Homo sapiens: one gene and its partners. The protein of the gene in region 5 purifies or fractionates together with the protein of the main gene of each other region. This does not show direct contact. Each region holds a gene or a part of one and is shown on either strand. Other genes may lie near its edges.

Region 1 (3,041 bases), on a different chromosome or scaffold from region 5:
ATTGAAGTTTGAGGCAGTGGAAAGAAAAGATCTTCCTCTGAAAACTCTGGACATTTGGTGGAGTCACACCTCAGCAAAGGACTTAAGTTAGCCCTAAAGTCTCCACCAAACCTGCCCTAAGAAAACTTAAGAAGAAACCTCAAAAGGACTCAATTTATTTGTTTAATAAATAACTTAAACTGCCGCCGGAACAAGGCTCAACAAGTAACAAAATTGATTTTGTTTATTATAATAAGGTAAAATTCCCAATGTCCAGCACTAACTTGTTTACAATTTTAAAACAAGCAAGCTTTTGACAGCTTTCTTCCCTGAATGATAACAGAAACTCACAGTACACCTGGCTCCCCACAGGAGGACATTTGCCATTGATTCCAAAGGAATTCTGTAATGATGTAAATGTGAAGGGATTGGGACATCTCTTGCTAAAAAAGGTCACACACACACACACACACACACACACACACGCACACGTAATATTTGTAAGAACATTCCATTACAGATTTTTTGTGGCACTTTTTAATAGTACGTCTCCGTGAACATATTATATCACTTCTGGGACTACATATTTTTGAGAGCAGAGGCCATATCTTACATACAGTAGATACCAAATAAATTTTAACACCGAACATTTACATAGAACTATGTTCTAGCAATTTTTTAAAGCAGATGAGGAAACTGAAGACTAGGGAGGTTCAGGTTACACAGATGGTTTGTGGTAGAGCCCAGATCTGAACCTTGCCTGTTGGGCCCCAAGGGACCCAAAGTTCAGGCTCTATCCCAGACCGCTCTGTTAGGTTGCATGGAGAATGCGATGCATTGTGCAAAGATTAACTGTGATTGTGTCTACTACAGGAGAAATAAGGAGCAGCTTAGCTTGCTAAAAAGTGAACACATTTAATTGGTTTAAACTTGCATTCATTATGCAAACTTTGCTTGAAATATTTCATTTGACAATTCTAGTAAATTAATACCTATTCTTAGTCTAGATAGTGCATAACAAATTACTGACGACAAATCCTAAGTGCGTTAAAGTAAAATTTTAAGACCAAAAGCACATGAATGCACTCAGTTATGATAATGTGAGATGATACAGTATTTTCTTTTTGCTTTCAATTTAATCATTTACTGTAAATATAATATGTTCAGTGAAAACTTTATTTATTAAAGCTAAGATGAAAAGGCTTTTCTTCACAGGCCTGTAAGCTCCCCAAATTCTAAAGCCTGTGAGTTTTTCTTGCTCTGTATTTCATTTACATGAACTTTTCCCTCAATGTTATAAATTATAAATGCTTGTGGTAAAATGAAAACATGGAAACACACAATGAATAAATATTTCATTTACCGAGGATTTATCACTCAATATCTTAGTGTATTACAGATAGTCTCATATTTATTTAAATGTGAGATTATAATAATTTGGAAACCTATCCTAGTTTTAAAATACTACTATAGTTTATGTCTTTTCCCATTTAATTAAAGTTTTCAAAATAAAATGATTGCATGATATTCCATCATCATATCACAATAGTGATAGCTGCTGGTTATTGATATACTGATGAGCCAAGCAGTAAGCTAGGATCTTTATGTGAATTATATAATTTATTCCTAATTTGTCCTTATTTGATATGCTAGAAATTTGAGGTTTCTGTGATTTCCCAAGGTAACACAGCAAGAACAAAGCTGAGATTTGGATCCACGTCTTTCTGACTGCGAAGTCTGTGTGTGATCATTGTTTCCATTGTCCTCAATTATGGTACATTGTATCACAGTAATGGATCATACATCATTTAATTACTTCCCTGTCATGGAACATTTAGTTTATTTTCAGTTATTCATATATTTAATGCCACTGAGACAAACATCCTTGCATGTGAGTAGAATCTTTACACTATTCTCTTACTTCTTTTGGATAAATCCCTTTTACTTGATTTCATTGGTAATTCTGCATCACATCTTGTGTATATTGACACCCTCTGCTCCTTTCACCTCTGGCTTTCTGAGCCTCTCATTCCCTATTGGTTAACTCATGTCCTTGGTGCCTGGGAGTTTTCCAATTGGCCCTGTTCCCAGGGGAACACTCCTTAAGCTGAAAAGTCTCGTCTCTACCCTCATCTCCCATCCCTGATTCACAGGCCCCTCTGAAGCTCCTGGCCGCCACAGTCAGTGAGCATTACCTGTTACCCCACCTGACACAGGTCCCCACACAACAGCACAGTGATGCCAAACAGTTGCTGCCTTCTGGACAGTCACTTGTTCCACCTGCTGTTGACCTTTCTAGTTCTATTTATCTCTGGAGATTTGGCAATTCTGATTTTTAAAAATATATGCAACTTACTTTGCATACATCTTCTTGACTAGCAGCATTTATGTGGCAAAACTTGTTAATTTTTATTAAATGTTTTCTGTGTGGCTTTGTTCTGCATTCCTACCTTAAGACTATTTCTCTCGTTCACATGCATGTAGAAAGTAGAAACCACAGGGAACAATGTACATTCTGAAATGCTTAATTTGCAGACATTGTGAAATTTTACTCATCAATGTGTTTCAACTCTTTGGTACATTTCTAGCATTTTGCTTAATATGTTTTATATGAAAAGGCAAATTTTAAATACTTAAGTTTCATAAACCACCAAATAATCAATAAACCCAGTTACTAAAACCCTAACGATTGTCAAACTTTAGAGTAAGAAAAAATGACCTAGAAAATGTATTGAAAAGTGAAGGCTTCTATACTTTTCCCCTACTAGCCTGTTACTCCTGTGACTGATTCATGAGGGATCTCTATTTTCAGCAACACCAGGGTGATTCTGATGCTGATGGTCAGTGAAACACACTCTAAAAATTATACAAGCGAATATATCAGCAAGTTTGCCTTCATATTTGTTAACTGAAAAGCAGTGAGTGTTCTGCTCTGTCCTCTCCCTTGAATCCTAACAAAATAAGTAAACAGAAAAGATGTGGCTAGCAGAAACTCCACAATTCTAACCTCTCAGCTATGCCCAGATTTTCTGTAGGGATACAAAGGTACAGTCACAAAGGGA
Region 2 (3,500 bases), on a different chromosome or scaffold from region 5:
CTTTCTCTCTAGATCATGGCTGTTAGAAGTCCCCTCCACAAAAACTTGCCAAGGAGTCATTTCCTGGTTTTTGCACTGCTGCCCTTCCCCGTCTCCTTAATCTCTTTTTAAGTAGGCAATTAACTTGTGCGTGCATGTGTCAATTATGCCTATAAAGACTGCTATTCTCTACAGGGCAAAAACCTCTGCCCTCCTGCCTCTGGAGGGGCCAAACTCAACTACACTGTGCTCATCGGAGAGACCCCTTGTGCTGTCACCGTATCTGAGACCCAGCTTCTCTGCGAGCCTCCCAACCTCACCGGGCAGCACAAGGTCATGGTGAGTGAGCCCTGCGTCTGTAATGCCTCCTTCCCGCCTCGTGGTGCATGTGTGATCTGTCCTAAGGAAAGGCTCTCTTCTGTCTCGTTGCCTGACTCACCCCCTCCATATCTCCTCATCTCTGGGTCCTACATCAAATTGGGTATAAGCTGAGAACACAAGAAAAGAAAGGCAGATGCCGAGGCAGGAAATTGCTTTTTATCTAGAGCTGCACTGTGTGGTTGTGGTCTGTCATGTCCTTCCTCGCACTGTAAGGATCTGCTGGCATGCCCGGGCTCTACACCTGTGTGCATCCATGTGCGTCTGTATGTGTACAATGCACAGGTTCACGTGGGCGGGATGGTGTTCTCGCCTGGCTCGGTGAGTGTCATCTCAGACAGCTTGCTGACCCTGCCAGCCATCGTCAGCATCGCGGCCGGCGGCAGCCTCCTCCTCATCATCGTCATCATCGTCCTCATTGCCTACAAGCGCAAGTCTCGAGAAAATGACCTCACTCTCAAGCGGCTGCAAATGCAGATGGACAATCTGGAGTCCCGTGTGGCCTTGGAGTGCAAGGAAGGTTAGTGGAAGCACACCCTCATTTGCTGGGTCCCTCTTTCTCCACCTGCCTTATTGCCCTTCTCCCTGCAGACAACTCCTATCTTTACTCCCATCGCTGCCAGCCATGCCTCTGCATTCCACTTTCACCCCTGTTTTCCCAGAACTTCTTTTGCTTATAGGGTCAGAGATGTCCAATGAAGAATGCCCACTGCATGAGGACCCAGGTCCAATTGCATTGTTCTAGTCCCTTCTTTGCCCTGACCCATCCCACAATCTGGCAAACACTTTCTCCCTCTCAGGGCCTCAATGTCCCCACAGTCAGAGTCCCCAGGCTCCACAGCCCCAGACTCTAGATCCCCCATGGGAGTGTCCAGCTCTTGTTTTTCTGCACACTGTCTTCGCAGCACGTGGGAGCAGCGGCAGCAAAGGCAGACAAGCACCTGCCTCATCTCCCCCAGGGTTTGTTTTCCATCAGTGCTGCAGGCTGAGCGCTCTGAAGGCCGCCACTTGCTGGTGTCCTTGGCTGTGGACGTGTGTGGGAGTGCAGATTGTGTTTTCTCCCATGTCCCACGCAACCACAGCCTCGAGGTGACGAGTGTACCTGGCGTCCTCTCAGGCTGAGGACCTGGCAGGCTCTCTGGGTAAACAGCTCAATTAGGAATGAAAACATTTCTCCTTTTGCTGCAAATGTCAAGATCAGAAACAAGCCCTCTGCTGGATGACAGGGAAGAGCTGGGCTGGGAAATAGGACATGTGGAGCCAAGGTTCCTCCTGGCAACAGGGCTGGTGAGTTTGGCAGAGGAAGGAGCCAGGAAGACAGGTGTGCCACCACCAAGGTGAGGCTTCTGAAGCCCTTGCCTTCCCAAACTCGGCTCTCAGCTGAGCGTCTCATGACCAGACCTCCCCTAGGCTTTTGCATCTTGATTTATTACCTTGATTAGAAAAGGGCAGCACTTTGCCTGTTCTGGTCTTTGCTGGACCCCCTCAGCCATGGTCTCTCACCTGCCTCCAGCATCTCCGTGATCTTTACTAAACGGCCCAATCATGATACTTTTTTTTCCTTGTTGAAACTACACTTGTAATATGTAAAGAGAAAATTTGAAATTATAGATAAGTATAGAGGAGAAAATAACATAAAAATCACCCATTTCCCCACCACCTAAAAACAGCTGGGAGTAGCCCCGCCCTCTGGAGACACACTCCCGTAATCCTCAGAGTCTCTACAAAAGGTCCTCCCCTCGTCCTTTGCAAACTTCTTCTCCCTCTTTCTCCTCCCCCGACTGGGGCTTCCCCACGAGCCTCTCCGTCTGCTTATTCTCATAGCTTTTGCTGAGCTCCAGACGGATATCAATGAGTTGACCAGTGACCTGGACCGCTCAGGAATCCCTTACCTGGACTATCGTACCTACGCTATGCGAGTCCTGTTCCCGGGCATCGAGGACCACCCCGTCCTGCGGGAGCTGGAGGTAATGCCTGCCTCCTGGGCCCAGCCACCCAGCAGGGATGCAGGCCCAGGGTATCCTAGGAAATCCAGATGAGACTCAGCAGTACTGAGTAAGGTTAGCAGGGAAGAGGGGTCAGTAGTTTGTAACAGCATCTCAGCAACAGAGCTATCAGGAAGGTTACGGCTGAGGGGGCACCCAGGCTCCTTGGGATGGTTCCAGGGTAAAGCTCATTGTTTGTCATTTTTTAATTAATGACTGAACTAATTAACTAAGATCCTGCCTCATTCTAAAATGGATTTAAGATGGCTTAAAGAAAGACACAGGATTCTATGAGGTTTGTTTGTTCATTTGTTGGTTTGTTTTACTAAAGATAATAAATCAGGCAGAGGAGATTAAGGGGAGACTAGTAAACTGAAGAAGTTTGAGGGGGCATCTCCTATTCTATCCTTGGGAAAATCAGGCAGCCTCCCCTCTGAGAGCTCCGCATGGAGCCCAGCCTCCCCGGCCCAGTGCAAGGTCAGAGCAGACTGTCGACCTTAGAGCCAGCTGTTCCTACATCATCACGGGTGAGTGGAATGGGGTGGGGTTGGTTATAGGCCTCAAACATAGGGTCCTACAGCTAGTGTCATCGCCAGCAGGCCCTCAGTGAGACCCTCAGGTAGGAGGCCCGATGCCTGTCCTCTGAGGGCGTCGCCTCCACCACACCCCACCCCAGGTACAAGGAAACGGGCAGCAGCACGTGGAGAAGGCCCTGAAGCTCTTTGCCCAGCTCATCAACAACAAGGTGTTCCTGCTGACCTTCATCCGCACCCTGGAGCTGCAGCGCAGTTTCTCCATGCGCGACCGGGGCAACGTGGCTTCGCTCATCATGACCGGCCTGCAGGGCCGCCTGGAATATGCCACTGATGTCCTCAAGCAGCTGCTCTCTGACCTCATCGATAAGAACCTGGAGAACAAGAACCACCCCAAGCTGCTACTCCGGAGGTCTGGCCCGCAGCAGTGGGTGGAGAGGGTGGCAGGAGTCTGAACCTGGACAGAGCACCTCATTATAGCAGGCCCCACAAGCAGCATGAGAAGGCCCACTCCCCAGAAGGGGCACCCATTCAGAGCAGCCTGTGTCCTCACGTCTCTGCAGGGCAGAATCTGACTTTCCCTCAGCCCAGGGAGACTACAGAGTCTGAAGTCACCCAGGTGTGA
Region 3 (3,500 bases), about 36 Mb from region 5:
TGGTAAAATGTTTTTGCTGATGTTTAGTATAGTTTCCTCATTTTTAGAAATTCACATTCAGTAAGCCCAGTTTTATGTTTGTGTTTGTGTGTGTGTGTGTGTGTATGGGTGTGTTTGGTGGTGTTTCCCCATTTTGGTAGGTATGGGGGAGGGAAAAATATACGATACAGTTTCAACTGGAACACTTAGATATTTTCAAGTGTAGCCTGTAATGCACCCTGCTCATAAGGCAATTTTGGCCTGTATCCCCAGTACATATTCTAGTGGTCTGGAACATAAGTGATGAGGTAGAAGAAGGAGGAAGAAGAGCAGAGGGACGGGCAGCCAGAAGCAAGAACAAAAAGGCAGGGAGCACTGGGGCAGATGGAAGTGAAATATGGGGTGTGGGCATAAGAGACAGGGAAGAAGCCGGAGCAGAGGTTACAGCGAGACTTGTCAGGGCCACAGATACTCTGAGGTGCTGGAAGATTTTGAGTATCCCTACAGTCACACTTCTTTTTAGCTGTTGGTTATTTGGGTAGAATTCTGCTTTCCCGTGGACAGTATCAGTCTTGGTATCTGCAGAGGTGACAAGATGGTGGTCCATGAGGACAGTGAGGAAGCACTTCGACTCACCACCCACCTTGACACCGACAGCCTGCCAGCTTTCCCATCACCTAGGACTGCCTTTGGCAAAGCTCTGTGCAAATGTTGTTCCCTTTCATCATGCTGACTGAGTTCAGCACAAACAGCTTGTTTACTCCCAACAGTCAGTGAGCTATAGTTGATGACCTGAAAGAAAATGAATGCACTCTCCGGATTCGTGCAAGCAAGAATGGGAAATGACAAAAATACCATGGAATAAAATAGAATCTGGGGTTCTTCACGGTTCGATGTCTTGGGGCTGCAATGAGGCAACAAAAAATATTCCCTAGTAAAATGACGTGTGGAAAGAGGCCTTAAGGTATAGCTGGTGCATGAAGTGATGGCCTATGCTTTCGAGTGGGTGGAAGCTTCTTGAGGAAAAATGATCTTGGAGAGTTACTGCTTCCTACCTTACCCCTCATGAAAGGGGGCCGGGTTCTGGCTGAGAACAGGGATATTCATCCTCAACAGCAGAACCTCTAGGAGACAACTGGCAAAGGTGTATTGTTTCACAAAGATAATTTCTTCTGCAGTACCGCAGAATATGTTCTTTTCTTTAATTAAGAACAAATTGGTTGGGGCAGATTTGGGGCAAAAATGACTGGTCAGACATGTGGAATGCCAAGCTTCTTTGCATTAGGAGCAAGCTTTGATGGAGCGGGGTCACCATTCTGCTTGAAATCGACTAGCAGTGGGGAGGGAGTTCTACTAGGCTACCCTTTGAAATTGATAGGGATGTGGGCACCAAGGAGAGGCTGGGATGAGAAGAGATGCTCTCACCAGCCAGGCTGTGGCAGCGATTTGCTCACCAGTGTGTGAGGGTGTGTGTTGTGTGCACGTATGTGGTGCACACCTGTGTGTGTTTGTATTCAATTGGTCCTTCAACAATGGCGTCTTTTCAGAGGGTCTTCGGGGTGTTATGAGAGACTATGGGTACAAGTGATTTATTCCGTGTAATTTAGAAGTGGGCCTATAGTCCTCTTGTGTTTTGGGAGACTGTGCTCCTGGAAACTGATCCCAGTGCTGAACAGTTTTAAGGTAGCAATGAAGAGAAGCTTGGGATCTGAGCTGTTGCAGACTTTTCCTTGTTTTCCTTCCAGAACCATTTATTCTTTCACTCACTCAAGAATACCTATAAGAATACCTATAGTAGATAAGCACTGTTCTACTTTAGGGACACAATGCCTTGGGGCCTGCTCCCCAAGCAGCTCATTGCTAGTGTGTTAGTTAGCTTTTTCTGCATAATAGACCATCCCCAAAAACTTAGTGGCATGAAACAACAATTTATTCTGCTCCAGTTCTTTGAGTCAGCAGTTTGGGCTGGGCTCACTCAGGTGAATGTGGTCAGCCACAGCTGGCTAATCTACGGTGGCCTCAGTTGGGACGTTTACCTCTCCTTCATGGGGTCTTTTATCCTTCAGCATCCAGGTTTGTTCACATGGCAGCTGGCAGGGCTCCGAGGCAGAGAGCAAAGGTATGCAACACTTTCATTGCGTTCAGTAGGTCAAAACAAGGGACAAGGTCAGCCCAGATTCTAGAGATGAAAAAATGGGCCCCATCTTTTCATAGGAAGAGAGGTGCAAAGTCACATTGCAAAAGGACTTGATGCAGGGAAAAGTGGAGATTTGTGGCCATTATTGCAGTCTGTCTTCCACAGCCAGTAAGTACACACATGTGCACAAGCAATCTAACCACCTTATCCTGAGGTCAAAGATATACGTCATGACTTTCTTAAATCTCAGTGTGACTTGTCTGTATGTTTTGGGTAAATTGTAGTGAAAAGTTCTGTCATAGTGGCATTCATTTCATTTTGTTGTTTTTTGAAGGAAGGACAGTACTTCAATGCAAAACCTAACGCCCATTCAGAATGTTGGGTGAAAATTTATGCACACAAAATCTTTGAAGTTCAACCCTATAGGATGCAAGACCATGAGATTCTGTCCCATATGCTCCAACGGGGGAGGGAGTATTTATCCTGTTCACCAGTGATCCCAAACTCTAGCACATAGTCAGCACTCAGTGAGGTCTGTTGAATGAAGGAGTGGGTCAGTGCAGGTTTTGAAATGAGGATATAACAGGGAATGTGAAGGGCCTGACTGAGCCCTGGGAGCCTGTATGTGAATTCTACAAGGCTCATTAGAATGGTCCAGCCATCTGATATGTTTTTTGTGTGAGGTTTTATGAACAGGACACAATGGGGTGTGATTGGGCTGTCCTTTTCTAAGCATAAAACACGCATGCATTTGATATTTGTCAGTGATGTTTGCTCTTCATCCACTGTTTCCCTTTTCTGACTGAGGACACATGTAAAGTGAATGGGCTTACATGTCAGGAGCAGATCAGAAAAGATTGTTAACTTTTATTTATAACTCTGTCAGTCATTAAATAAGCAAGATACAGAGTCTTATTCTCTAACAGCCTTTAGAAATAAGCCAGATACCCACTAATCTAGTTTCAGAGCCCAGGAATGCACCACATGACACCTCAGCATTCCATCTAGACCTTGGCTCTGGAGCTCTGTGCATTTTGTTCTTCCGAAGTTGAAAGTTAAGTGGGAGAAGCAGTCTGTTTTAATAATTTAAGTGTATCTTCCAGTAGGACTTGGCTTTCAAAGACCATTGAGAGAGGGGAAGGTCAAAGGGCTGCTGCTGTCTTCTGAGGACACCAGCTTCTTGAGCTTTCCTGACCAGTTGATTCCCCTCTCATCGGGCTGTCCTTACATTCTGGTCTCCTAGTTGTGGGGCTCTATTGCTTCTTATTCAGTTGAATTCAGAATACTTTACAGCATCATCTCATGACTTGGAAGTTTTACAGAGAGCAAATCAGTGTTTTAAAAGATGCATTTGGGGGCCGGGCGCGGTGACTCATGCCTGTAA
Region 4 (3,500 bases), on a different chromosome or scaffold from region 5:
CAGTGGTGGCAACTGAGGAAGGTTTCATTTGTATTTATTCAAGGCTGACAACCACAGTCTTTTTCTTGATTCTTGAACTGCCCCAAATTTGGCAGTGCAAGCCCCTTCAAACAGGCTCCTGAATCTCTTTGACATACCCTCATTAGTCTTTGAGGGTTTCCCCACATTCTGGTACAAAATATTCTTTTAACTAAAAGTTTAAAAGTAACCTACAAAAAGCCTATTATACAAGTTCTTATATTCTTCATAAAAATAATAATAGTATTAAAATGTCATATCTAATAAAGCAACTAATAAACTTTACTAACAGAGCTTCTTATTTTGTGAATAAGCACAATGACGCTGTCTAGAAAAACTCCACCCATCAACCATTAGACTGAAGGATGACCTCATATATTATATTGCTGTTAGGCACTTTTCAAGACATAAAGATAAAATCCTGCCCTCCACAAAAATGATCTATTGCAGTGAGTCTCAAAATTTAATATGCATAAAAATCACCTGAGGGCTGGAGTGCAACAGCACCATCTGGGCTCATTGCAACCTCCACCTCCTGGGTTCAAACAATTCTCCTGCCTCAGCCTCCCAAGTAGCTGGTATTACAGGCATCTACCAACATGCCTGGCTAATTTTTGTATTTTTAGTAGAGACACGGTTTCACCATGTTGGACAGGCTGGTCTCAAACTCCTGACCTCAGGTGATCCACCCGCCTCGGCCTCCCAAAGTGCTGGGATTACAGGCGTGAGCCACTGCACCCAGTCAGAATCACCTGAGGGATATAAAATGCAAATTCTGATTCAGTAGTTCCAGGGTGGAGTTTAAGAATTACAATTCTCACAAACTCCCCAGTGATGCCAATGCCACTGGTCCATGGTCCACACCTGGGGAGCAAGGGTTTACATGGATTCAAAAGCTCAGAGAAGAATTTTACTCCAAGTTAGACTTTGAGTTTGGGTTCAAATATGAATGCCAATGTGTATATCCTTAAGCAGTTTCTCATTATTTTTTTCTCAAAACAATGTAATCTTCATACTTGCCAAAAATGTTTACCCAGTAGTCGTGGGAGTACACAGAAAATTACCACCTCCTTCCATTCACATTTCAGATTACCAAGTCACAGATGTGGCTGCAACTAAAACGTAACATAATTTACATGCATCTCCTCAAAGGCCAACATCATTTTGAGATATCACCAGCAAAGACTCCCAAGATGATAACAAAAGAGAATAAAGTGAGTGTCCCCCAAAAAGGAGAAAAGAGTAAAGAAATAAGATCCTGGTAGCTTCTCCCCTTCTCAACTCTGACAAAGGTGTCACAATCCAGCCACACAAATCATGGGACTCAGATTTACCTTGAGAGCACTGGCCTTCACCTGGGGCACACTGACCATCCTCTGCAGATGCTTCAGCAACATCTCCTCAGTGAGGTCATTCTCAGGCAGAAAATACTGATAGACATCATACTGCAACCTCCACCTGGAGTCCTGGTCTGTCCCAGCGTCACATGGTGGGGGATCTACGCCTCTAAAGTCAACCAACAAAATGAAACATCAGTCTCTTGTGGTGCAAGTCCCATCTATAAAAAGGAACCAAGAGCCCTAATTTCAAACACTTGCAACAATAATTACAATTTAACAGTTCACCTTTTGCAGTGGCAACAATTGGTATTCTGAAGAAAAGTAATGCACTGTTATGGACTGAATGTTTGTGTCTCCCCAAAATTAATATGCTGAGACCCTCACTCCCAGTGTGATGATATTAGGAGGTGGGACCTTTGGAAGGTAATTAGGTCATGAAGGTGAAGCCCTAATGAATCGAATTACTGCCCTCATAAAGGAGATCCCAGAGAGCCCTCTAGCCTTCTTTCTGTCATGTGTGGACACAATGACAACCCAGCAGTCTGTAACCTGGACGAGAACCTTCACCAGAACTCAACTGTGCTGGCATCCTGATCGTGGACTTCTACCCTCTAGAACCATGAGAAAGAAGTTTATAAGCCACCCAGTCTGTGCTACTTTGTTACAGCACCACAAACTAAGACAAACACCAACAGGCAAAGGTGATTACATAACTGGATTCTGATATCAGTCAGGCCTAGAGTAAAATACTACAGCTCTGGGGAGGCAAAAAAATTTTTTTTAAAAAAAAGCTGGGTGCAGTGGCTTATGCCTGTAATCCCAGCACTTTGGGAGGCTGAAGCAGGAGGATTGCTTGAGCTAAGAAGTTCAAGACCAGCCAGGGCAACATAGAAAGACCTCATCTTTGATTTAAAAAAAAAAAAAAGAAGAAGAATATAGCAGATTTGTCATTTGTTAGCAAGTAGGGTAACCTCCATAACCCCTAGGGAAACTTTCTGTAAAATAACAGCAATTGCCCTTCTTCATAAAATTGTTAGGATTAAATGGCAAAGAACATAACAACACTCAGCACCACGGACAATGCACAGGAAGCATTCAAGTGTTCTCAAATGTTAGCTATCATTACTATTAAAGCAGAAACTGAGGCACAGCTTTAATTAAAACAATGAATCTTTATAAAAATAAAAGGATGTTTCAGGGCTACTGAGTGCTATCTATATTTAAAGTGCTTTATAAAAACCAGGATGTATTTTCAAGCTCATAATAGACTCACATCTGGCTCTTCAAATAAAAAGAGTTCACAAGAATGAAGTGGGAAAATATTAACTGTAAATGACAGTCCAAATATTAATAGTGAAGTTTAAATTACATCAATTCCCCCCAAAAATTAACTCAATTTTACTACAGAGAATTAGGGACTTGAGAGAGCTGGTCAAATCTACACAACTGTCGTCATGTATATTCTAAAAGCATTTCTCAGACATGGGAGACAGACGTACCTCGCATAGCCTAGGTTTGCTGGGGCAAACTTGATAGTCGTTTCAAAGAAATTATACTCCAAGTAAATGTTGGGATCAATATCTAAATCGAACTCCAAATTACAGCCTCCAGGGACAGGATCTGGATAAGAAATAGGGAAGTTACTAAACAAACAATTCCTACATATCCAAATCATACTCAGAAAAACAGAACTCTATCTACTCTTACAAAAACTTCCCAAATAGAAGTTAAATATAAACGTAGAGCTTCTAGTCGTATACTATTTCATGAACTGAGGTTAAAGAGGGTAGAGTTAACTGAGGTTCAGGGCCCTAGAGCAGGGCAGAGCCAAAATTTTCTGTAAAAGGCCTAATAGTATTTTAGGCTTTGTCAGTCTGATGGTCTCTGCAGTAACTACCCACCCCAGTCCTTGTGGCAGGAAAGCAGCCACAGGCAATACGTACAGGAAGAGGCATAGCTGTGTTTCAGTAAAACTTTATGTACAAAAACAGGCAGCAAGCTGGATCTGGCTCATGGTCTGTAGTTTGCCAACCTTTCCTCTAGAGTTAAAAAGATCGGCTATTGGTTGACTACTTCTGGCCAGGTTTGGAATGCAGATACACAGTGTGTATATATGTTTCAATATCATGTTGGAATCTTCCT
Region 5 (3,500 bases):
TTTTAAAGGACTCTTAAAGCACTAAACCATTAAACTGTGTTACTCCGCCATATTTCATGCTTCCTCTAGTTATTTACACACCATCAGAAGCTCACATCAGTTATCTGTGTCTAAAATGTGGACTCTGACATTTGGAGGGGTTTTATTATCTCAGCAGTGCATAATGAGCTTAAAGGGCTTACCTGCATGTCCCCGGAGGTGCTGGCTTGAGGCGGACATCAGCTTACAGCACACCATTAACACGTAGGCTAGAAAGAGCCAGTGCGACAGCAACACTGACTTAGCACAGACTCTCATCCTGGAGGAAAAGCAGGGCTGGAGTCAGTGAGGGCTGAGGAAGGCCAGACTCCCTGGCAAGCACCATTCTAGGAAGGCGGGAGAAAGCAGGGGCAGATCCCTGGAGCTGGAATTCCTTTCTCCCAAGAAAACAGAAGACCAATCAAACCTTATTTGCACTTAGCATTAACTAAATTTTCAATAAAAACCTTTGATAATTAAGAGTTTTCCAAGTTAGCACTATGCATCAGTGAGAAGCTTATTTATGAATCTGCAAGTTGTTGCCTGAGTTACCCTAATAGAGCATGGGGATTTTATTCTATTTTATACCATGAGATGTAAAAGCAACACACTTAGAGCCAGATCCAAATAAAATATATATGTTTTCTGGATCTGAAAGAATCCATGGAGATTTTGCACATGTGGTCCAAGAACTTTCTCCTGGTTTCTCTGACTGTACCCTAAGGCTTTCTGGTCTGGAAGACTAGGTTCATAGTTGATTAAACCAATCTCAACTCCTCCTTTGGGAAGGAGTATGGGCAAATACAGGTGAATATAAAATAAATTTAACTTCGTATGATGGACAGTATCAAAACAGTTGCTCAAAAACAATTCCGTTCACATGACAATTCAGTTGCATGGTCTATTCTAAAACAAAAGAGTAAAAAAAAGGAAGATATCAAAAACATTATTCCCAGCTGCCTAACTTTCTGCCATTTTATAACATCAGAAGGGAATTAAGTAGATAGAACTCGATTAACTTTTTTTGTTTGCTTTTTTTATATTAACTTTTGAAGCAAAACTCACCGCATTTGGCATCTGAAATTCCGGTGCTAATAGGTTCTTCCTTACACATGCCTCATGGCATCTATTATTACCACAATGGATCAAAGAAACCCCTGTTTAATATATGCAAATGTATACACACTTATGGGCCGACAATAAAAACATGGTACCTGAGTTTGGCTTCTTGCCTGAGTCACACTATAGGCAAGACCCCTAAGGAAGTCCTATAAGGAAGCATCTCCAGCTCCCAGCAACCTAGCAGTGCCTCTACGAAAGTCCCAGTCCCCTACTCCACGAAAACACATCAAAGCCTCAGGGGAATTGAATGCCACACCATACGCCGAGGCACACACATGTTCTGCTGCCAACATTCTCTCTCCGTGACCTCTCACAATTCCGTCAAATAGATCTTGTTAAAGGGTGTATTGCTCATTGATTTGAGATTTGGTCTGCTTTTTAAGTAGCCAGGCCAATCATGTTTGAAGAACTTGGTGTTAAAGGCAACAAAAAGCACTGGCTTCTTTTTGCCCTTTTAAACTGTTTCAAAATGGTTTTAAACGGCTATGTTGGGTAATTTGCAATGCAGCAATAAAAAATTAATCTTTCATTTATGTGATGCCTTGAAATTGTCCCTTTTGGGGCCACTAATTATGACAAACTGGAAGCCAGGGTATCTGATCCAGCCTGCAAATGTGTTTTGTTTGATCTGTGCTTTAAAAAAAAAAAAGAAAGAAATTGAATTGGTTGCCAACACATACAATGTCCAGATTGCAAATCAGAATCCAGATTCTCTTGAAAAATTATTCCTGGCATCCCCGGGCTCACATTTCCACATGGGAGTAACAGGCTGCCGTGGTCGCAGCTGCCCCTAGAAGGGTCTCCACAGTCCCTCCCACTAGTCAGTACCTTGGGCCCAACCAGCCCAACTCATTTACATGTGGCCATTTGAACTTCTGATCCTTGGGTAAGAGGAATAAGCCTTTGTAACAAATAGATTGATAGCTGATATTGGGGTAATAACTGGAATTTTAAAACATTATGTGTGAGACAGAGTGTTACATTAACAAAAAATAAATCATCCAATACCGGAATTTGAGCCTCTGGACTTCCCCCAAATTATGTGATTGATAATAGCATCTAGAACTCAGGTAAGATCCACGTATTATTTTCTTTGCCACCTTTCAAGCTGTTTCTAGAGTTTCTGTCCTCTTCATGTGTGTACACTGAGGTGGAGATGGAAGGCATGCTTTGAGAAACGAAAGGCCCTTCAAAGCAGAGAGGCTCCATGTTTCTGTGTAAGTTTAGAATGTTAGCAATGTCTGAAGCAAATTACCAAACTTAGAAGTTTAAAACAACAATCTATAGCCATACTACCCTCAACCCACCTGATCTCAGAAGCTAAGCAGGGTCGGGCCTAGTTAGAGCTTGGACAGGAGCAGTTTGAAACAACACCGATATATTATCACACAGTTTCTGTAAGTCAGGAGTCTGGCATGTTCTGGCTGGGTCTTCTGCTCAGAAACTCACAGGCTAAAATCAAGGTGTCAGCTGGGTGTGTCCTCATCTGGAGGCTCAACTGGGGAAGGATCACTTCCAAGTGCTCTCAGGTTGTTGGCAAAAGCCATTTTCTTGGGACTCTCTGTATTCCCCGTATTCTTGCTATTGACCAGGAACTGCTCTCAAGCCCTTCATGTCTTTGCCACATGGCCCCTGCACGTGCTCCTTCATGGTTTGAATCTCTTCCTCCAGGAAAGGCTCAGTCCCCTTTTAGGGCTTATCTGATTAGGTCAGCCCCACCCAGGATAGTCTCTCTTTTGATTAACTAAATTCAGTGTATGTGAAACCTTAAAAACACCTGTGAAATCCCTTCATCTATGCCTTACAGGTGTAATTTAATCAAAGATGTGAAACTCATCAAAACCACAATGCCACCCACACTCAAAGGAAAGCAATTAAAATATTTAAAATAATGTCCCACTGTTGGCAATAATTGAATGAAATATCTCTAATACAAAGAGAAAGAGTTTAACTTGATAAAACCATAAATTGATCGATAATTTGATCATGTATGTCAAACGTTTACAATCCAGCAGATCACTTATAGGATTTAACCCTAAAGAAATAACCAGCAACGTATGGGACTTTTTTTTATTGTTTATACTATTGAAAATGATCTGGCCATGCATGGTGGCTCATGCCTGTAATCCCAGCACACTGGGAGACCGAGGTGGAAGGAACGCTTGAGGCCAGGAATTCAAGGCAGGAGCGAGCTATGATTATACCACCACACTCCAGCCTGAGCAAAGAGTGAGACCCTGTCTCAAAAAAAGAAGGCAGGCAGGCAGGCAGGCAGGGAGGCAGGGAGGGAAAGACAAAAAAAAATGATGATCCAAATGTTTAACAGTATGAGACTGGTTAAACAAATTATGACACAGCCA
Region 6 (2,325 bases), on a different chromosome or scaffold from region 5:
ATTAATGTGCTGAACGCTTTTTTTTTTTTTTTTTTTTTTTTTGCAACAACACCTTGGACCTCTGTGTTGGGGTTTGACTGACCTCAAGCTGATATTATTGGACCTTGTGCAGCTTTGATAACCCATGTGAGAGTCTAGGCAGGACCAGTGGGGCCCAAATCTTGCTGCTCTTGTACTTTTAGGCACTGCCCTTGCAGACTCACCTTTCTCCACCTGCCCTGGAGAAAGGTAGGGTGTGCTGGGCCTGCCCCTTGCAAATGGGATTCACCAGTTTCATTTATTTGACTCTACTGCCACAGTGAAAAGAGCAAACAGCTATTGGGTTGCAAACCTCCTTTGACATTAGGAAATGTTGACTTTGTAACAATAAAACTTTGGTCCTAGAAAGACACGGTTGTCCTGGGAGTTTGTAGTGTTAAGTTGCAACAACAACAACAAAAAGCAACAAAACCAGCTTAGGATAACACTTTTTGTTGCTTGTTCTTAAAGATGTCTCACTATGATTAAAACCCTTTTCATTAATGTAGTGAAAGCCACACAGGAGTTCCTTCTTCCAGGAGGAGAATACCAAGCACATCACTTTCTCTCTGCATCAGTGATGTCAAATACGCATCAGAAAATGTTCAGGTTTTAGGAGCTGTCCTAGGTGCTGTTTCATCATTGGAAGCAGTGAGAAAGAGAAGCACTGCTGCTTGTCTGGATATAGGCTGAGGATGATTGAGAGAAGCTGTGGGAACTGACACAAGGGTCTGCATAGGTCATCCTGTGACCCTGGGGACTATGTTACCAACTGACAGACAGATCTTTCACTGTATCCTAGCAGGGCAGGTAGTCCACCAAGAAATGTGCTTATTGGATTGGGAGGTGTTTATTTGTAGTCTGCTGTAACACGTGTGAAAGAGCAGGAGCGTCATCAGCATATGACTTGCGCTGGTCATCCGGTAAATGGATGTGCTGTAGTCCCAGTGCTAATCATTTCTCTCCTTCACAGTGGGTGGAAGTTTAGGGTTAAATGTCCTTTGAATGTCACCTGGTGAGTCCTTGACACCTTAGGCTCTTCAGAAACAATGGTTTTGTTGAGGATGGGGAACAGGGAATGCCGATTTTATATACATGGTACACAGAGAGGGGTGTCACTTCAGAAAATCTTCCAGCATGTTCTTCAGAATATTAATTTATATGCGAGGTGAGGTTGGGAATGAAAAGAACAGGTCAGCACTTTTTTTTTTCCTAGAACATACAAAAGAACATGGTGGACTTTCAGGGAGTGCAATGGAAGGTGAATATTTCCTTAAGGGTCCCCGAGAAATGGGAGTGAGGGGAGGGGACACAATGGCTTTTTGAGCTTACTTTTACCTTCTGATACTAGTCAAGGTCCAGAACCAGCCACCAGCCAAATTTCTATCTGGGTGCGGGCCACTGAAAATCCTTGTTAAAAACCAGATCACAAATCTGGGGCTCTTGGTCCCATTGGAGAAGGAAGGAAGAGCCTCAAAATAAGTGTGCACCCATGCACATATTCAGGAACAGCTTGTTTAGTCTTTACACTTTGCCTGAAAGTTGCTTCTCCTCGTCCCTTTGTGTGCCTGGGTGGCCTCGGCCCTGTGCGTTGGCAACGCAGGATCAAATGTGCTGCAGCTTTTGCAGAAAACAACTCAGAAACACAAAACCCCCCAACAGCTCAATTATTATTTTTTCAATGTTTTCCTACAAGAGCCAAGTAGCACCATGTACAGAAGACGCCTTTTTTTTTGGAATATTGAAATCGTTCTGCATGTAAAATATGGGATAATGACCTGTTTATATTAAAATTCTGATTAAATTATCTGAGAATACGCTTGTTTTTGTGTGGTGTCCCGGTAAGGACCTGTCGTGTGGTCGGGGGATGTGGCTATGAGTTGGGCTGTGTTAAGGAAAACCTCTTGGAATATGTAGGTGCCTTTTTTTAGAGGAGAAAAACACCTAGATTCTTCCACACATGAAAAGGGAGGTTAAATAGTTGCTACCAGCAGAGTTGATGACTCGTAGGGACATACTTGTATGGCCAAACTGGTGGTTTAAATATTGCACTATTTCCATACCATTTGGTAAGTAAGCGCTTCCCCAAGGGCTCCCAGACCTCCCCATGGTCCAACCACTAAAGGGTTCACTCCGAGAATACCAATGAACCTTCAAGATCTTGCTCTATTCTGACATGCGGGAAACTCATATGTTAAGTATTTTCAATGTCATCCTGGGAGTGGAGACCTGTCCCAGGTTGGGTGGACAGGTGAGTGACCATGGGTTAGACCATGGGATTGAAAGCCTTTTGAATAGTCTTTCTTG
Region 7 (3,500 bases), on a different chromosome or scaffold from region 5:
ATGGTGAAACCCCCATCTCTACCAAAAATACAAAAAATTAGCCGGCGTAGTGGTAGGTGCCTATAATCCCAGTTACTCGACAGGCTGAGGTGGGAGAATCGCTGGAACCAGGAAGGCAGAGGTTGCAGTGAGTTGAGATTGCACCACTGCTCTCCAGCCTGGGCAACAGAACAAGACTCCATCTCAAAAAAAAAAAAAAAAAAAAAAAAAAAAAAAAAGAATGACAACTGTGAAGCCAGATGGTCAGGTTAGAAAGCCAGGCTTTCTGTGACTTCTTCTGTAAAATGGGAATAGAAATAAAATGGGAATAGAAATAGTAACCTACCACATAGGGTTGTCATGGGTATTAAATGCAGTAATATATCAAAACCATTCAGAATGGTGCTTGAATGTGCTAAGGGCTAAATATTAGTTTGACATATGTAGAACACTGCATTCAACAGCAACAGAATACATGTTCTTTTCAAATACACTGGAACATTTACCAAAATTTAACAATATGTTGGGCCATAAAGTAAAGATGAAATTTCACAAAATAAAATTTAGAGTATATACTCTGACTACAGTGGAATTAACCTAGAAATCAATAATAAAAAGACAATTAGAAAAGTCCCAATTGCTGGCCAGGTGCAGTGGCTCATGCCTATAATCTCCGCACTTTGCAGGGCCAAGGTGGGCAGATCACCTGAGGTCAGGAGTTCGAGACCAGCCTGGCCAACATGATGAAACCCTGTCTCTACTAAAAATACAAAAATTAGCCAGGCGTGGTGGCGGGCACCTGAAATCCCAGCTACTCAGGAGGCTGAGGCATGAGAATCACTTGAACCCAGAAGGCGGAGTTTGCAGTGAGCCGAGATTGTGCCACTGCACTCCAGCCTGGGTGACAGAGTGAAACTGTGTCTCAAAAACAAACAAAAAAGAAAAGTCCCAATTGCTTAGAAATTAAGCAACATAATTCTAAGTAACTCTTAGGTCAAAGCAGAAATTATAACAGAAATAACAGTTCAATTGTATAGACAACAAATTGAACTGAATGATAATGAAGATAGGAAATATCAAAACTTGTGGGACACAGCTAAAGCAGGACTTAGAGGAAAATGTGTAGCTTTAAACACGTATATTAGAAATGAAGAAGGGCTCAGTATTAATGATCTAAGAAACTTCTATCTCAAAAGGCAAACAGAACAGCAAATCAACTCCAAAGAAAGTATAACAAAGGAAATAAAAAATAGAAAATAAAGAAAATCAAGTAAGCCAACAGTTGGTTCTTTGGAAAGATTAATTTATACAGTCTTCACAAGGGTAAACAAGAAAAAAGAAAACAGAAATTACCAATATCAGAAATGAAAAAGATGATATCACTATAGAGCCTATGGACATTAAATAAATATAATAAAAGAATATTGGCAAATGAAGTGGCTCATGCCTGTAATCCCAGCACTTTTGGAGGCCAAGGTGGGTGGATCACTTGAGCCCAGGAGTTCGAGACCAGCCTGGGCAACATGGCAAAACCCCGTCTCTACAAAAAATACAAAAAAATTAGCCAGGCATGGCAGTGCACGTCTATAGTCCCAGCTACTTGGGAGGCTGAGGTAGAGTGATCATTTGAGCCTGGGAGGTCGAGGCTGCAGTGAGCCATAATCATGACACTGCACTCCCACCTGGACAAAAGTGTGAGTCCCTGCCTCAAAAATAAATAAACTAGCTTGGCGTGGTGGTGCATGCCTGTAGTCCCAGCTCAGGAGGCTGAGGTGGGAGGATCGCTTGAGCCTGGGAGGAGGAGGCTGCAGCAAACTGAGATGGTGCCACTGTACTCCAGCCTGGGCAACAGAGCAAGACTCTGTCTCTAAATAAATAAAAAAAATTATAAACAACATTATCTCAAGAAATTTGACAATTTAGGTGTAATGAACAAATTCCTTAAAAAATACAGTCCATCTAAACTGATACAAGAATAAAAAAATCTGAATATCCCAATATCTATTTTAAAAACTAAAATTTACTAAAAACCTTGCCACAAAGAAAACTCTATGCCCAAATGGCTTCACTGCTGAATTCTTTCAAACACTTAAGGAAAGAAATTAGACCAATCTAACCCAAAGTCTTCCAGAGAAAAAATAGGAGCTATCACTACTTTGGTGTTATACAGTTGGTTTAATCCTAAGCAAAAAAAAGAAAAAAATACCCTCAGTAAATTTCAGTCTCAGACATGGCGTATCTGTGGGAGGTACACAGGGCCCCGGGAATTGGGACTGAGACTCTTACCATCCTCATCCGTCTGGAAAGTGACCTCCTTGCCCTCTTTGCGCCCCTCAGGGTTAGTGAGGACAAGCCTCACGTGAACGTTCCGATAGGGCAGCAGGTTCTTGATGGTGTAGCGGCTGACACCTTGCTCTGTCTTCACACACTCTCGGATGGTCTGGTTGTGGCTGCTGCCCAGGGTGTAGTGATAGCACAGCGACACAGTATAGGTGTGGCAACGCGTCACGTTGTAGCCCAGTGGTTCCCACTGCAGGGTCAGCTGACGGGCCTGGATCTCAGCAAAAGCCAGGCCTTTGGGGGCCCTCATGGGCTCTGGAGAATGCAGGAAGCAGAGAGAAGAAGTTAGAAGAAATGGGAAGAGAAGAGGAAGAAGAACAGGGAGAGAAAGCATCAGTCAGCTGCCTGAAATCATCCCTCCATTGCCCCCAAGAGCTCAGGGGACCCCTAGAACATCAAACAGGGAGTAAAAGTATGTGCTTTGGAGTCAGGCGGACTACATTTGAATCCTGGCTCTGCCACTTGCAGCTGGCAACTGCTGGCTGAATCACTTCACCCCTCTGATCCTTAGATTCCTCAACTGCAAAATGAAAAGATAATAGGCCCTGCCTCATAGGATCATTGTAAGGTTTAAGGAAATACACACAAAGGATGCATGACAATGGCTAATATACAATAAGCCCTCAAAAATATTAGCTTTTTTTTTTTTTTTTTTGACAGAGGCTCACTCTGTCACCCAGGAGGGAGTGCAATGGCATGATCTAGGCTCACTGCAACCTCTGCCTCCCAGGTTCAAGCAATCCTTCCACCTCAGACTCCCAAGTAGCTGGGATTACAGGCGTACACCACCACGCCTGGCTAATTTTTGTATTTTTGGTAGAGATAGCGTTTCACATGTTGGCCAGGCTGGTCTTGAACTCCTGACCTCAAGTGATCCACCCACCTCAGCCTCCCAAAGTGCTTGGGTTACAGGTGTGAGCCACCGCACCCGGCCAATAATTTATTTTTAATAGCACAGTTCACCTCCTAATTCAAGATCACCCTGGACTACAACAGGCCAGTCTGAATCAAACTGTTGATATATTTTTCTTAAGGTATTAATTCCAAACTTGTTCTGAAACAATGTATAGTAATACATATAATATAATAACATACAGAAATCAGGGTAATGAGGGAAATGAGAGCCAAATAGTTAAATAAAGCCAGAGAATGACAGGGAAACAGAAACAGAAATACATGAC

The links.
Region 1: the proteins of TAFA4 (region 5) and DSC2 purify together in Homo sapiens (affinity purification with mass spectrometry; 2 studies listed by BioGRID and IntAct, with this or other methods). This does not show direct contact.
Region 2: the proteins of TAFA4 (region 5) and PLXNA2 purify together in Homo sapiens (affinity purification with mass spectrometry; 2 studies listed by BioGRID and IntAct, with this or other methods). This does not show direct contact.
Region 3: the proteins of TAFA4 (region 5) and SUSD5 purify together in Homo sapiens (affinity purification with mass spectrometry; 2 studies listed by BioGRID and IntAct, with this or other methods). This does not show direct contact.
Region 4: the proteins of TAFA4 (region 5) and TM7SF3 purify together in Homo sapiens (affinity purification with mass spectrometry; 2 studies listed by BioGRID and IntAct, with this or other methods). This does not show direct contact.
Region 6: the proteins of TAFA4 (region 5) and INSR purify together in Homo sapiens (affinity purification with mass spectrometry; 2 studies listed by BioGRID and IntAct, with this or other methods). This does not show direct contact.
Region 7: the proteins of TAFA4 (region 5) and PTPRU purify together in Homo sapiens (affinity purification with mass spectrometry; 2 studies listed by BioGRID and IntAct, with this or other methods). This does not show direct contact.

Annotation. Positions count from the first base shown.
Region 1 is NC_000018.10:31,058,340-31,061,380, forward strand, and holds the end of DSC2 (desmocollin-2 isoform Dsc2a preproprotein), read right to left. Parts: 3' UTR 501-3,041; downstream 1-500. UniProt on the Homo sapiens protein: A component of desmosome cell-cell junctions which are required for positive regulation of cellular adhesion.
Region 2 is NC_000001.11:208,041,885-208,045,384, reverse strand, and holds part of PLXNA2 (plexin-A2 precursor), read left to right. Parts: intron 1-174; coding exon 175-318; intron 319-642; coding exon 643-877; intron 878-2,181; coding exon 2,182-2,324; intron 2,325-3,018; coding exon 3,019-3,287; intron 3,288-3,500. UniProt on the Homo sapiens protein: Coreceptor for SEMA3A and SEMA6A. Necessary for signaling by SEMA6A and class 3 semaphorins and subsequent remodeling of the cytoskeleton. Plays a role in axon guidance, invasive growth and cell migration.
Region 3 is NC_000003.12:33,156,311-33,159,810, reverse strand, and holds part of SUSD5 (sushi domain-containing protein 5 precursor), read left to right. Parts: intron 1-3,500.
Region 4 is NC_000012.12:26,993,885-26,997,384, forward strand, and holds part of TM7SF3 (transmembrane 7 superfamily member 3 precursor), read right to left. Parts: intron 2,979-3,500; coding exon 2,858-2,978; intron 1,525-2,857; coding exon 1,353-1,524; intron 1-1,352. UniProt on the Homo sapiens protein: Involved in the inhibition of cytokine-induced death of pancreatic beta cells. Involved in the promotion of insulin secretion from pancreatic beta cells.
Region 5 is NC_000003.12:68,880,548-68,884,047, forward strand, and holds part of TAFA4 (chemokine-like protein TAFA-4 precursor), read right to left. Parts: intron 299-3,500; coding exon 183-298; intron 1-182. UniProt on the Homo sapiens protein: Modulates injury-induced and chemical pain hypersensitivity. Ligand of FPR1, can chemoattract macrophages, promote phagocytosis and increase ROS release.
Region 6 is NC_000019.10:7,111,765-7,114,089, reverse strand, and holds the end of INSR (insulin receptor isoform Long preproprotein), read left to right. Parts: 3' UTR 1-1,825; downstream 1,826-2,325. UniProt on the Homo sapiens protein: Receptor tyrosine kinase which mediates the pleiotropic actions of insulin.
Region 7 is NC_000001.11:29,274,522-29,278,021, reverse strand, and holds part of PTPRU (receptor-type tyrosine-protein phosphatase U isoform 1 precursor), read right to left. Parts: intron 2,575-3,500; coding exon 2,266-2,574; intron 1-2,265.